2 separate regions of the Homo sapiens genome follow, and region 2 is linked to region 1. The links come from fine-mapping of genetic effects on gene expression. A gene starts in region 1. The other region holds a variant in brackets. All regions are shown on one strand. Distances are between the middles of the regions.

The links. PIP is the estimated chance that this variant, and not a neighbour inherited with it, causes the effect. A credible set is the group of variants that fine-mapping cannot tell apart.
Region 2: its variant is the best candidate, but not a certain one, in a credible set for the expression of DCUN1D1 in whole blood (TOPMed, PIP 0.53).

Annotation. Positions count from the first base shown.
Region 1 is chr3:182,975,732-182,983,858 of GRCh38, forward strand. It overlaps DCUN1D1 (defective in cullin neddylation 1 domain containing 1), which reads right to left and starts at 4,807. Exons shown (of 7, transcript NM_020640.4): 1 at 4,756-4,807. The coding sequence starts at 4,758. LOC105374246 (a long non-coding RNA gene) reads left to right here and starts at 5,076. Exons shown (of 2, transcript XR_924771.2): 1 at 5,076-5,756. RefSeq lists silencers at 4,476-4,595, 4,656-5,095.
Region 2 is chr3:182,952,790-182,960,916 of GRCh38, forward strand. The region is part of intron 4 of DCUN1D1 (defective in cullin neddylation 1 domain containing 1); the gene reads right to left. It also overlaps the pseudogene C9orf85P2. Among named protein-coding and RNA genes, the nearest start is that of DCUN1D1, 24 kb to the right of the region's middle. The variant G/C (reference allele first, on the strand shown) is at 4,953.

The DNA of each region.
Region 1 (8,127 bases):
TAGGTGAGGGTCAGGGGGAGATAAAAGTGTGGAACCAGAGACCAGGGTCCTAACCCCTGCTCTGCCACATACTAGCATGAAATCATTTAGAATCGCTAAGCCTTCATTCCCAGATATGCTAAAAAAAAAAAAAAAAAAAAAAAAGTAGTAATAATGCCTATTTCAGAAGTGGGAGTGGAGATTAATGACAATTGTAAATTGTCTGACTAGTAGAGTGTACCTTCTCGATAAATGTTAATTTCGTTTCTTTGTCCCCAAAGGCCCAGTTTTCTGCATATAGTCACTGAACTACATATAAACCACTAGAACATATTCAACAATCTATCAAAGAGGTTTGGTTGTGTTTTTATTAACCCTAGTGTGGCTAGGTATACTTGATAATCCATTAGTTTTTATTGAACATTAGACAGTCATCTTAAACAGAATTCAAAACTCTGTACATAGAAGCTGCATGGTAAAGAAAACTGTAATAAGGGTCTTCTGAAAAAACTGCTTTTAAAAATAATTATCTGTAATACTGTCACAGGACACTATGGAACAAAAAAAAACAAGGTATATCGTACCACTCAGAATCCTTCAATGGATTTCCATTTCTCTAGGATAAAAGCCCAGTATCCTTACAGTGTCCACCCATGCCTACCCCCACTCCTTGCCACCTAGGCCTCATCTGCTCCAACGACCCCCTGTATATACACATGTACATATACATACATACACACACACACACACACACACACACACACACACACACACACACTGCTCCAGCCACATTGGTCTCACTGTTCCTCAAGATTTCTACATTTCTGCATGGCTTATTCCCTCATCCCCTACTCTGTTCAAAATTATCTCATTGGTGATACAGATATTTAGCAACCCTACTTCCATCAATGCCCTAGCACCCCCAATCCCCTTCCCTAACACTGCTTTCTCCCACAGCACTTAACACCTTCTAACATAGTAAAGAAGAAAACTATATACTATGTTTATTATTTATGTCTCCCTACTAAAAGGTACCCCTCACCAGAGTGAGGATTTTTGTCTCTTCTGTGATATATACATCCCTTCAGTGCCTAACACTATCTCTAGCACACAGCAGACGTATAATAATCACTGAAAAGAACTGATAACCTCCTTTATTTGTAGACATGCAAAGAATGTGCAACAAGTTATGAAAAGACAACCTTGAATAGACCTACATGTATTTGAATTTACAAATTCTAGTATTTGTTGACAACATAATCTTAAATTTCAAAGTTCATATATATTTAAAGCCATTGAAAACATAGGCATTAACATCATTGATCACCCATTAATATGAATTTTGTTACTTAACATATTCATAAATAACATGGGGTTTCCTGTGTTTAAGTGATGGATATGATTTAATTTCAAATGTAATTTTCTGGATTTCATATGAGTTAACAGATAATACTGGGGGAAATGGTAGACCAGGAGAAAATAGTTTCAGTTCTGCAACCAACAATCCTGCAAACCTGAACCTCAAAACCTCCTTGATATTCAATTTCTTCTTGTGTAAAAATGGGGAGGAGTAATTAGATGATCTCTGAGTCTATTTCAGGTCTAAAAATTCTATGATGCTATGAGTCTAAAAATCATTAGAATCATAAAATGTCTATGCTGGATGAAACTTTAGAAATCATCAAGTCCAATCCTGCCATCTTATAAATAAAACAACCCACACGTTTTGAACACTTTTTTTTTTTTGAGACGGAGTCTCGCTCTCGCCCAGGCTGGAGTGCAATGACGCGATCTCGGCTCACTGCAACCTCCTCCTCTGGGTTCCAGTGATTCTCCCGCCTCAGCCTCCTGAGTAGCTGAGACTACAGGCCCCCACCACCACGCCTGGCTAATTTTTGTATTTTTAGTAGAGACGGGGTTTCACCGTATTGGCCAGGCTGGTCTCAAACTCTTGACCTTGTGATCCGCCCACCTTGGCCTCCCAAAGTGCTGGGATTACAGGCGTGAGCCACTGCACTCAGCCGAACACTTTTTAAAAATATGTTTCAGGCTGGCGTGGTGGCTCACGCCTGTAATCCTAGCACCTTGGGCGGCCGAGGCAGGTGGATCACCTGAAGTCAAGAGTTCGAGACCAGCCAGGTCAACATAGTGAAACCTCGTCTCTACTAAAAATACAAAAATCAGCCGGGTATGTTGGCGGGCACCTATAATCCCAGCTACTTGGGAGGCTTAGGCTGGAGAATCGCTTGAACCCAGGAGGCACGGGTTGCAGTGAGCCAAGATTGCACCACTGCACTCCAGCCTGGGCAACAGAGCAAAAACTCCATCTCAAAAAAAAAAAAACAACAACAACAAAAAACAAGTTCCAAAGTAACAGAATATTATCTAATTTTGGAGTCGTTTTTAGTCTGTGTGTGGGGGGAGGGAGGAAGTTAACAGAACTTTTTTACTTATACAAAGTATTTCAAATATCCCATCATTTAAGTTTGCTCTAGAACTGACAATAACATGTGCTCTGGAAATGGGCTGCAGCTACAGACACCAAAAAACTCACAGCCCCGAAACTGCATAAAGAAACAAATATATGTAAGATAACTTTATAATGAAACAACTTCTTAACTATAAAATTCTTACTGCCTAACTTCGATTAGGGCCAGTGGTGAGTCTCTTTCCTTTCTTATTATTTTTTTTAAGAGACAAGGTCTGTTAGCCAGGCTGGAGTGGTGCAGTGGCAGGGCTCACAGCAGCCTCAACCTCCCAGCTCAAGTAATCCTCCCACCTCATCCTCTGGAGTAGGGGCAACCACAGGCTAGCACCAGCATGCTTGGCTATTTTTTTTCCTTGGGATGGAGTCTCACTACTATGTTGCGCAGGCTGGTCTCAAACTCCTAGGCTCTCAAGCAATCCTCCTGCTTCGGTGACCCAGGGTGCTGGGATTACAGGCATGAGCCACCGTGCCCAGCCCCTACGGTGAGTTAGCTAAACCAGAGAATATCACGACAATTCTCATGACATAAACTGAGTTCAGCCACAGGATATGTTTTAAATTAATATCTTGTCACCACTGGTAGAATTACATGGGTTATGGCTAAGTTTCAAAACTAGCTAATTTTAATATTAACCAAAAGAATAGAAGCTTACAAGCTGAACTCTCCCTACGAACCACTTGATGCCTGAATTCCTGAACAGGTGATGAGTATTTCCGGGACCCCACTGTCTAGGGGATGATGCGGATCTGGAGACCATCCTGAAGAGCACACATTTCAGCTGTGGCTGAGTGTTTCCCAGGGAATTAACGTCATTACTTCGAGCTTACTATACTTATCTAAATGCTAAGAGTCTGGAAACTTCAGGAGTAATGTCTATGACCATCTAAATACTTAAGAAACTAGAAACTGTTTAGACTGCCTGGTGGATCTCTGAACACTGTAATACTAATCTATACATTAACCTGCACTTTAAAGTTTTCTTACCAATTCAAACTGTAAATTCCTACACAACTTGCCACAGAACATAAGTGTTAAATATGTGTCAGACTAAACCATATATCCATACATGACAACAAAATACTGCCAAGCTGGAGGATGGGACTAGAAGTGTCATTCAGCAAAAATAAGACCAACTAAAAACAAAGACACTGGAGCATTCCCTTAACACAGGCGCGCACACACACCCTCCTCAAAGAGGCCTTTATGTTCCCCACGAGCAAAGGACAACAATATCATTTTTACTATTCATACAGTAACCTGCACGGAATTCAACTCACGCTCAGACTGTACAATGCCAAACAGCGCTTCTGAAACGCGAAGAGCGTCCAGCAGAGTCAGGTACTTAATTACCAAAGTAAACAACTCGACCACAAGGGTCTGCAAGCCTGGAGAGGACTTTTTCCCCCCCCCAAACAAAAAAGGAGAGTAACTTGACAAACTGTTTTAAAAAAAATCACAAATGGCCCTTAACTACTATAATAAAGCAATTACTCCTCCCACCCCCAAGCAAATAAAATAGGTGCTCGAAAGGGCGCTCGCTAGTCTGTGTTCCCTAATTTTATGAAATGAGAACAGGTTGCACTTCCGTACCCCCTCCCCCAAGCTCAGCAGTCTCCCATGTTTTCAGTAGAGAGGTAAATATAACCTCCACCAACTGGCCGGGGAAACTCTCCTTCTCCAAAAGCATGGGACGCCTCGAGAGGTGATGGAGAAAGGAAAAGGGCTGATACCCCGCCCCAAGCAAAACTGCCTGGGAGACTTGCGGGGTATTGGAGCCGGGAGCGGAGGAGGGAGAGGCGCGCCGGGAAAGTCTTTCCTTCTCCCCGGCCGGGCGGAGAGGGAAGCCCCGGCTTCGGGGCGGGGGGAGGCTACTCACCCGGAACCCCAGACCCCAGTCCCCGACCAGACACAATGGAGCCGGCAGAGGGGCAGGGGCAAGGCCGTTGCCCCCTCCCCTCCCCCCGCCCCAACGCCTCCCCCACCCGCGCCGGGCCCCGGCAAGGGGCACCGGGGCCGCTCCCCGCGCCCCAAACTCCCCGGGGCTCCCGACTAGGCCCGGCTCCGCTCCGCCTCCTCGGCTCTCGCGTAGCGGCTGCGCCCGGGCGGGAAGGGGCGAAGGAGGAAGGGAGAGGCAGGCAGGAGAGCCCCCGCCTGGGAGCGGGACGGAGGCCGCGGGCCGAGGCTCGGGGCTGCAGGGTCGCCGCGGGACGGAGGGCGGCCGGGGCGGGGGTGCGCGGCAGCGCCGGCCCCCAGCCGGCAGGGCGGGCGGGCGGCCGCAGTGCCTCACCATGTTGGTGTCCTCCAGGCCTCTCCCCTCCTCCTCCGGCTCCGCAGCGAATGGACGGCGGCGGCGGCGGCGGCTCCTCTCACGGGCTTGCCCGGCTCCCGCTCATGCGCAGTGCGGGGCGGCCCGGCGCGGCCCGAGGAGGCAGCCCCGGACCTCGGGGAGGCGGAGGGACGGAGGCAGGCGGAGGGCGCCCCGCGCGGGGCTTCCCCCGGGCGCGGGGGTCCCCCGGGGAGTGGGCGGGGGCGGGGGGCGCGGCGGGGGAGGGGCGGGCGACGCAAGCCCTCCGCGCGCCGACATCCTCCTGCCGCGCCGGGCGGTCTCTGGTGGGGGCGCCGGGGGACACCCCACCTCCGTTTCCTACGCGGTTCCTTCCGGACGACCACGGCCGGGTCTACGCAGGCTGGAAGCGGGCACGAGCGGCGGCGGATAAGTTGAGCAGCTGGGGGCGGCTGAAACGGATGGTTGAGGAGCTTCATCCATCCCAGACCTCCCCTCCCCATCAGTATCAAAAAAAGGGAGAAGATAGTGGAAACACCTCCCCCTGCCCCGTGTTTTCTTCTTTTTCCCCCCAATCTCAGTATCAGACCTACATCAGTTCCCTCGCGTGGGCATCCCAGGGGAGACCTTAGTCCCCCCCCTGCGGTGGCTGTCACTCCATTAGTGAGGACCAGGCTCTCCCCAGACCTGTCTACTGGGAGACAGTTGGGGTAACCCTATAGTGAGATGGGGTGGGGTGCACTGAGACCCAAGGCCGGGCTGCGGGAGTCCAGGTTGCCTGCCTACTGCTAGCTCTCAGTATCCCCTCAGTTCGGCCCGCCCAGGATAAGTTTCGGGAAGCAACTACACATTTTTTCACTGAGGGTCTAGTCACGCAGGGCGGACAGTCCAGGTGTGACCTGCCCTGGGCGTTAAATCAACTGAGGCTGAGGAGCACTAGGATTCTGAGCTGAGGATCAAGTGGACAAATTCGTGCTGCAAGGAGGACAGAAGACTCCTGTGGAGTAAGTGGTCCTTGCCCTTCAGAAATGTAGTATCCAGTTGGAGAGATAAGACACCTTCACACAGGAAGGAAATAAAACAGCTAAGAAAGCAAACTCACTCAGAAAGTCACATCTGAAACTGTACCAAGAGCTTACCTACGTTTCAGAACAGGACCCACCTGAGTAGACCCGTTATCACCATCATCACCAGCACAGGCATTAAACGACCAGATCAACCCTATAACTAATGAATTTGTTCTTACCAAAACAACAGAACTTCTTTGGTAACTCCCAAAGGCCTCCTAACTTCCTGGAGCTAGCCATGTACTGGGAGCGCCCAGCGCTGTACCAAGGCAGGTTTCTGGCGGCCACAAACCGTTCATCCATTCTTTCCCCCAATATTTAAAGAATGCATGTGAATGTGCCAAGCTCCTTGCTGGGCTCTGGGTAAATAGTCCTGCAAGGAGAAGCCAGATCTGCCTCATGCAGCAAGCCTGAAACTGGACTACATCCACGGAGGTTCTCCAGGAATTCACCTAGCTTTTGACCTAAAGTATTAACACCTAGGGCGTTAATGAGGAGGATTCACTGTATCTCTTACTCCAATCTGTTCTACTCCATTGAAATAATCGTTTGTGGGTTTTCCTAAGCTCTACCAAGGTACAGGCCTTAGTTATTCTAATTGACCTCTCGCCTGCGTTTGGACACTTCCTCCTTGAATTTCCTGTTCATTTTCCATGACTCCACCTTCTCCTGCATCTCCTCTTTACTCTGACCACTCTCCTTTGCTGGCTGTACTCAATTTAGGCTTTCCTGACCATTCCTGAACGTCCTTCTGTATACAGCCTGTGTCACGCTGTCACTCACATTCCCACGTCAACTACTGCCCATATCAAGAGGAATCTCAAATCTTGACTTCCAGTCCCCAAGTGACAGGCCTAAACACTCATTCTGGTCATTTCACAGGTCCATCAAGCTCACCAAATCTAAAACTTTATCCCCAAACCCACTTTTCCTCCTGCCTTTTATCAAATCATCCAAACTAGAAATCTAAGAATCATCCACCACTCTTCCTGCCTCATCCCCTTACTCCGCATCTCACCAGTTTTCCCTCCTAAATGACTTTTAAATCTGCACCCTGCCTTCTATTTCTTAGCCAATTCTTTTTGTTGTTGTATTTTTTTGTTTGTTTTTGAGATGGAGTCTAGTTCTGTCACCCAGGCTGGAGTACAATGGCGCAATCTCAGCTCACTGCAACCTCCGCCTCCCAGGTTCAAGCGATTCTCCTGTCTCAGCCCCCACCGAGTAGCTGGGATTACAGATGTGTGCCACCATGCCCAGCTACTTTTTGCATTTTTAATAGAAACAGGGTTTCACCATGTTTGTCAGGCTGGTCTCGAACTCCTGACCTCATGATCTGCCCCACCTCGGTCTCCCAAAGTACTGGGATCACAGGCGTGAGCCACCGCGCCTGGCCAGCCAATTCTTTATCATCTCTCCTCATCAGTAACTTCTTACCTAATCTTCCAGCCTCTACTCCTTCTCCACTGCTCCATAGTTGTCTTTCTATAATGCAAATGTGAATTTGTCCGTAAAATTCTCCAAGAGCTGCATAAGCATGAGCCTCTGGAATGGCATTAAAGTTCTCTCCTCTGATCTATCCATTCCCATTGCCATTTTCCACCACCCTCCACCCAAATGCACCTCATATTTCAGTTTTCACAAACCAAGACTGCCATACCTCTGCATGTTTCCTTGCTTTCTCCAATTCTCCTATCCCTGGCCTCCTAGCTAATACTGACTGAGCCCATGACACATACTAATTTATGTAATCCTCACTGCGACACATACTAACTCATATAACCTCACTTCTACCCTATGAGCATGCCCAGCTATTACGCCCATCCTACAAAGGGGAAAATGGAAGCACAGAGAGATTAAATAATATGCCTAAAATTCCCTAGCTAGGCCAGGCGCAGTGGCTCACGCCTGTAATCCCAGCACTTGGGGATGCCAAGGCGGGCAGATAACTTAAGTTCAGGAGTTCGAGACCAGCCTGGCCAACATGGCGAAATCCCATCTCTACTAAAATTAACCGGGCATGGTTGCGCATGCCTGCAATCCCAGCTAGTCCGGAGGCTGAGGCAGGAGAATCGCTTGAACCCTGGAGGCAGAGGTTGCAGTGAGCTGAGATCGCGCCACTGCACTCCAGCCTGGGCAAGAAGAATGAGATTCCACCTCAAAGAAAAAAAAAAAGAGATTCCCTAGCTAGCAAGTAGCAGAGCTAGGATTTGAAACCTGATAGTCTGGCTATCTGGTTAGTCTATTCTCTTGATTACCACATTATATTTCCCACCAAGATCTCAGTACTCAACTCAAAGACCATCTTCTC
Region 2 (8,127 bases), 23 kb before region 1:
TATCTCTTCTCCATCCCCACTGGGAAGGCTTATGTTAGGATATTCCTCATTTCTAACTAAATCACTGGGATAGCTCCATAACCAATCTCTCTTCTAGTTCAGCTTTCACTCCTTTCAAAGGACCACAGTGCTTTGAGATCGACCTTTCAGGCATGAATCTGGTGTCACTTCCATGTTAAAATTCTTCAATCATTTCCAATTACCTTTAGATAAAATTTGCACTTCTTGTCAAATGAACTCACTTGCAGTTCCTCAAAGGTGGAATGTTCTTTCACCTCTGAGCAAGTGAACATGCTAACCCCTCAACCTGAAATGGCTTCTTTTTTCCTTTGGTCTTGAAAATGTGCATTCATTCTTCAAGGCTCAAAAACTATACCCTTTTTGAAGGTACTGCAAACTACCCCAGACAGACTAAAGATGCTCTTGACTCCATGCTCTCAGTGAAAGCAGTCAAGTGTTTTTGAATAAAAAAGGAAGACTTTAACTCAAAAAGATTAATAAGTTATAACTAAGAGCTGAAATACATAAGATTAAACAAGGATAAAATGTTAATTGTCACAGGTATAGGAAAAGAAGCCCTCAGAAAGAAATTTATAAGTGATGAAGAGAGCAGCTTAGCTAGCGAGAGGTGATTTAACATAGTAGTTTACAGTATGAGTTTTAGTCTCTTAAACCCCTACTCTACCACCAGTTAAGTGACCTTGGGCAACTGGGCTGACTTCTCCTTGATTCAGTTTAAAATGAAGATAACAATAGTACCTATCCTTACCTGGTTGTTCTAAGGACTAAATGAGTTAATACATAACAAAGCATTCGTAACAGTACCTGGTAAATAACATATCAGTTCTTACTATTATCATTATTTTAAATCATTTAGAACTATTAGATTCTGAAGCAGTATTGGAAAAGACAACAAAGTCAGTGATAAGGTAACAAGAAGCAACAGCAGTTAAAATAAATGGAAGGCAAATATAGAGAAAAAGAAATAACTAAGTCCTAATAACAAGCTATTGCATAAAATTGAGATCCTTGCAGAATAAATCCTTAAGTCCTTACGGTAAAATGTAAAATGCAAACAGAGATACTCCCCATGTTATTCTTTCAAAGAGAATCAACAAGAATAATGTGGTATTTCACAACAGATGATCAGCTGAATGCAGGATGAACATGGAAATGAATTGAGACTAGACCCAATCACAGTCCCTAAAAGAAACAAAATGTTGCCAGCTCACTGGGGAGGATGGAATGGTGATTAAAAATCCTATTCACAATGTCTTTTTTAATCAATCTCAACAAATTTTATAACAATGAAAAAAGAGATATAAAATAACATATATAGTATAAGTCTGTTCATACAAAGTTCAAAACCAGTGCACATTTTCAAATGGTTCAGCAAATAAAATATGTGTGTACATCCATCTACTGAGATATAAAGAAAACGTGGTAAAATGTTAACAATTGGGAATCCAGGTGAAGAATACGCAAAAGTTCACAGAACTATTTTGCTACCTTTTCTGATTGATATTTTCAATTGATATTTTTCAAAACAAAAAGAGGAAAGTTAAAAAACCAGACAAAGCTAATTTATATCGTTTAGGAACAGAAACATGGGTAGTAAAAGAATTAAGACTATAATTATCAAAATTCAGAATAATTTCCAACTCTGGGAAGAAAGATGAGCTTTTGCTGAACGAGAGCCTTGCTGGGATCTTCTGATGCCGGCAGTTTCTTCACCTGGCTGTATAAATGCATGAACTTTTCTTTATATTTATTAAATTATCTATATAAATTCTATGCATTTTTTTCTGTGTGCACATTTCACGAGAAAAAAGGTAAAAACAATGTGATGAGGTATATAAAAATACAAATAAAAATCGCCATACACTTGTTAAACATTAGTATTTGAGAATGCTGCTTCTGCTTTTTAACATGCAAACATAAGTATGAGGCTTTTGCTATGAGTCATTTACTTGAGATCATTTACCAAAAGGCACTTACTGAGGACCAATTTTTGAGGCTAGCAATATAATAATGTCATTTTATTTTTACATGAGGTGGTTCCTTTCTTATACAACCATCAATTCTGAATCTGGTTTAGTTTGGTATTAGATAATACATCATACACAATTTATATTGTTCGTGTCTAAAATTTGTCTACTTTTCTAAAGGTTTTTCTGATTTCCTCATTAGGATTTCACAGTATCTTTTGTGAAATAGTCAGAAGTTGGTCAGAATTTCACATTCTTAAATTGACTTTTTTTTTTTTTTGAGACTGAGCCTCGCTCTTGCTGTCCAAAATGGAGTGCAATGGTGCGATCTCGGCTCACTGCAACCTCTGCCTCCAGGGTTCAAGGGATTCTCCTGCCTCAGCCTTCCGAGTAGCTAGGATTACAGGCATGCGCCACCACACCCGGCTAATTTAAACTGACTTTTAATACAGTAATATTAATTCACTTGAGGGTCTCCTCCTGTGTTTTCTAAACCAATATCAAAATCCAAATCATCATCACTTTCTTCACTTCTTCTGCAGCTTCTTCTATGGTTGGAACTTAGATTATTTTCAATATTCTCTGTTTTTCCTGGTTCTTTATTGAACAGAATAGCAATGTCTTCTTCTTCCCACATTTTGCGCAAACTTCAAGTTCATAGGCACATGGTCTACACGTTATGAGATAAGAATCCTCCACTGTCTTTTGTAAACATTTAACACATTTTTTAGGTTGGATAATGGTTTGTATTTGCTATATTTTACATGCCACTCAAGAACTTCTTTACAGCGCTGACATACTCCATCAGGAGGGTTTTTTTTTTTGAGACTGAGTCTCGCTCTGTCACCCAGGCTGGAGTGCAGTGGTGCGATCTCGGCTCACTGCAACCTCCACCTCCCAAGTTCAAGTGAACCTGCCTCAGCCTCCCGAGTAGCTGGGATTACAGGCACCCACCACCACACCTGGCTAATTTTTGTATTTTTAGTAGAAACAGGGTTTCACCATGTTGGTCAGGCTGGTCTCCAACTCCTGACCTCAGGAGATCCACCTGCCTTGGCCTCCCAAAGTGCTGGGATTACAGGCGTGAGCCACCGCGCCCAGCCGCACCATGGTTTTGTGTTACTTTTCTTGGTCTAAACATGCTTATCAAACTTTTTTTTTTTTTTTTTGAGGCAGAGTCTTGCTCTGTCGCCCAGGCTGGAGTACAGTGGCACAATCTCAGCTCACTGCAACCTCTGACTCCCGGGTTTAAGCCATTCTCCTGCCTCAGCCCCCCGGGTAGCTGGGATTACAGGCAGGCACCACCATGCCTGGCTAATTTTTTATTTTTAGTAGAGATAGAGTTTCACCATGTTGGTAAGGCCGGTCTCGAACGCCTGACCACAAGTGATCCACCCACCTCAGCCTCCAAAGTGCTAGGATTATAGGCGTGAGCCACCATGCCCAGTTGAACTTGTCATTTTTGAAGCTAAATATATTCTGGTGCTTCTGAGGCCTGGAATGAGGCACGTTGCCTTTCTGGGAGCTCATCACCAAAACCCCAATCACCCCTCACTGGGAGCAGGCAAAAGCCACAATGTCTTAATTTACTTAGAAATATCTACGGCTAACACAAAATAACAACAACAACAACAATAAAACACAGAATGTGGAGTCATAAGGCCTGAGATCTAGTCTCAGTGCCAGTCCAACCACTCTCCAGTTAGGCGACCTTATTAACAAGTCAGTCTCTCTGGCTATGAGTTTCCTCATCTATATGATGGAGAAGATAATATGCTTTTACTTAGCTCAAAGGGGTTGTTATGAGAACCAAATGGGATTATACAGATTATCGTGTTCTTTAAAACACTATACAATTGTTCCTAAATATTAAACTAAATATTTAACAAATAATGTTCAAATCATTTAAATCAATTGTAGAGGTATAAGATTCCAGCTGAACCACAACCTACAAGAAAGTGACTCATAGACTTTAGTCTAATAAAAGTTCAGTATGGCCCTAAAAATGATATGGCTGCTAAAGAACATATATAATCTTTGATCAAATTAACATAATGAATAGTCTCACAAAAATTAACAGACCCACGGTGTTCTATATTACTTAGGCTCCTTTTGAAATATGATGTTCAACTTTATGGGCTCTATTTTGAAAGAAATTGGAAATGTGTTTGGGGGGATAGTAGTGGGAATAACAAATGTCTCCTGTAAGAAGAATAGTTAAAATAATTGGAATGCTGGCCTGGAGAAAAACAACAGGTAACTGAGAGTGGATCTTTAATTTTAGCCTTTATCAGTGTTGCACTGGGGGACAAGTAAGAGCAATGATAGAAGTAATAAAGACAAAGATGTTAGCTTAATAAGGAAGAACTGTGTAATAACAAGTAAGGATATTCTGTGATAGGAATGGACAACTTCCTAAAACAATGTGTGTCCAGTCCCTGCATGTTCAAAAGGAGAAACTGAATGAGCATCAGGTAAGGATGCTACTTTGGGTAGGTTAAATTTTATAGAGGACTTATGAAATCCTTTTCAAATTTTAAGATTCAGGCAATTATCAGAAAATGGCAGGCTGGGTGTGGTGGCTCATGCCTGTAATCCCAAGACTTTGGGAGGCCAAGGCGGGGTGATCACTTGAGGCCAGGAGGTTGAGGCCAGCCTGGGCAACACGGTGAGTCCTTATCTCTACAAAAAATGTAAAAATTAGCCAGGCATGGTGGCACACGCCTGTAGTCTGGCTACTCCGGAGGCAGAGGCAGGAGGATCACTTGAGCCTAGGAGTTTGAGACTGCAGTGAGCTACGATCATGGCACTACAGTCCAACCTAGGCAAGAGAGCCAGATCCTGTATCTAAAACAAATCAAAAAAAAATGTTTAAGTCAGATTACTAAAGCAGATGGCAACAGAGGAAGCACCCTATCCTGGTATCACAAGAAGTAAGGTTATAAAAAGTGAAAAAATAACCAG[G/C]CTGGGTAATACCGCAAGTCTCCAGCTCCACAAGAAATTAAAAAATTAGCCTGGCATGGTGGTGCTTCCCTATATAGTTCCAGCTACTCGGGAGGCGGAGGCAGGAGGATCACTTGAGCCCAGGAAGTCAAGCCTGCAGTGAGCCACGATTGCACCACTGCATTCCAGCCTGGGCAACAGAGCAAGACCCTGCATCAAAAAAAAAAAAAAAAAAAAAAAACAGAAACATGGAATACACCAGTTCTCATTTTAATTAGCACAGCTATTTATAAACAAACCACAGGGTTGTCACTCACTCTCTGCCAATTTGTTTTGGGCCTTACCTCTTCTCCTATGATCTTCTAATTCCTCTCTGCCAAATCTTGTAATTTAAGAGCACTGTGAACCCTTAGAAAGGCTGTTATAAAAAACTGTTTCCTTTTTAATTAAACTCTGCAAATAAGCAAGTCATTACATTTCCTGATACCTAACACCAAAGCAAAACAAACCAAAAAAAAAAACTATGATTTGTCTCTTACTACATTTTTCTTTTTTTTAATTAATAGACTTTTTTAGTTTTAGGTTTATGAAAAGTTGAGCAGAAAGTAGAGATTTCCATATACCCTCTTCCCTAGTCAGTTCCTACTATTTTTAACATCTTGCTTTAGTGTGGTATATTTTTTATAACTGATGAATCAATATGAATATATTATTATTGACTAAGGTCCATATTCTACATTAGAGTTCATTCTTTGTATTGTACACTGTATGGCTGTGGGGGGGTCTTAAATAACATTTTCATTGTAGTTAAATACATATAACATAAAGTTTATCATCTGAATCTTTTTGAAGGGTGCAGTTCAGTGTGAAGTACATTCACATTGCTGTGCCATCGATCTTCAGAATGCTCATCTTATGAAACAAAAACTCTACATCCTTTAAATATTACATTTTTTCTTAAGCACAATACTTATTAGATAACAGAATAAACACACATAATTCTTCAACATAATGCTTTCACATAATCTGTTTCTCAATTTTTTCCTGTAATCTAAAATTCCAATTTACCATATTAATATATCCAATAGTTATAAAAATTTAATTTTGCTCAATTCTTACCACAAGTAATAAAAACTAAGATTCAGTCTCAAAACTATATATTCACCCAAAACACCATTTATTTTGTGCTCCAGTAAAGGGTAGCGATATAACTAAGAAATAGGTTATGTCCCTTTAAATCAACATTTGACATTCACATTATATTTAATCTTATCAAAATATTGTACTACACTTCTAAATATGACAAAATAATTATTTTACACATACATGTAAATTCAAAGACTTTAACAGATTATTATTTGTGGAAGGAAAGAGAAAAACAGAAAAAACATCCCAGTTAACTGGTGGCCCCAGACAGAAAAACTAATTGTAGGTATCCCGGCTTATTCTGCCTGCAAAATGAGGATTTTTCCTTTAAGAATAAAATCCTATCTATATTGAGCAATCAAGTTGGAAAGGAGGCTTTATTATTGAGAATTTCGCTTTACAAATATGTTATGAATCTTTCATCAATTCAGTCATGTTTAGTAACTCGTGGGGCCATACCACATTACAAAGGTTATACATTTATCCCTTCCTCTCTACCTTTCCGTCACTTCCTCAATCTAATCCGTTCATATAATCTGTTTCTCAATACTTTTTCCCCCCAATTTAAAAAATAAAGTGGAATTAGTGCAGAAGGCCCCTTATTAGCCTCTCCAACTACTATATCTTCAAAAACCAAAAAAAAAAAAAAAAAAAAAAAAACCTCATTTACCTTCACTGGGTAAGTTACTTAACCTTCCTGTGCCTAAATTTCCTCATCTTCAAATTAAGGATAATAAACTGCTAGCACTTTATTACTATGTATTTGGCACGGCACATAGCAGGTGGTAAATTACTGAATGAAAGGATGAATCACTCAAAAAATTGGTAAACATTAAATGAGGCAGTGCTATGGTTTGGATATAGTTGGTTTGTTCCACCAAAACTCGTACTGAAATTTTATCCCCACTGTGGTGGAGCTGGAAGATGAGGCCTGGTGGGCAGCATTTAACTCATGGGGGTGGATCCCTCATGAATGGCTTGGTGCTATTCTCCTTTTGCAACAGTGAGTTCTTGCCAGAGGGAATGGATTAGTTCCTGGAGTGTGTTATTATAAAGCGAGGCTTCCCCTCCTGTTTGGTCTCTCTCCTCACAGGAGTCCACTTCCCCTTTGACCTTGTCTGCCACGTGATGATGCAGCATAAAAGCCCTCTGCAGAAGCCAGGGCCATGCCCCACTCCTAGCCTGCAGAATCATGAGCTAAACAAACCTCTTTGTAAGTTACCCAGTCTCAGGTATTCTGTTATAGCAACACAAAATGGACTTACATACAAGACAAGTAGTATATGTAAAGTACAGTACTTAGCACAGTGCCAGACATACTAAAAGCTCACATTAAATGGAAGTTATCACCATCATCAAAATCTTCATTGGGTCCCCATTTCCCACAAATTCCAATTTAAACCTTTCTGTCTCCAAAAAAAAAAATAAAAACAAAATCCTTTCTGATTTCAAAAGAAGCCTGTGGTTATTCAGCTTTCTTGTGTCTCACCAATTTCATCTCCAAACAAGCATTCTCATTAAAATCAAACCAACAACTTCTCTCCTGCACAAAGCCAAGCTTATTGCTGAAATTTTAGACCTTCATTCATAACTATCTTCTCACTGGAACATCTTTTATCTTCCCTCGTTCAGCCAAATACCAAATCCTTTAGTTCATATCCCACCTTGTCCAGGAAGCATTTCCCAACCACTCCTGCTTTTACTCATTTCTCCCTCTAAAACCCTTACATACTTTTATTATTTTGTAATTACCTACTAGCACTATCTAATCTTTTTAGGTAATTTGCAAATTACACTGTATCTTTTACTCTCATATCCCCTTAACTATCCCAAAAGCAAATGTACAAATACAAATGGATTGATCTAAACTTTTACAGTGGTTATTTCTGGATAATAAGACTATGAATGATAAGCACTTCATTTTTCATCCTTATAGTTTTCAAATAAATCATAACAAAAAAGAATAAATTTATCTGGCATTCTATGACTCAGAAATCTTATAGTGCTATTTCTATAGATCCTAAGATCCTAAAATATCTTCAGGGTCATG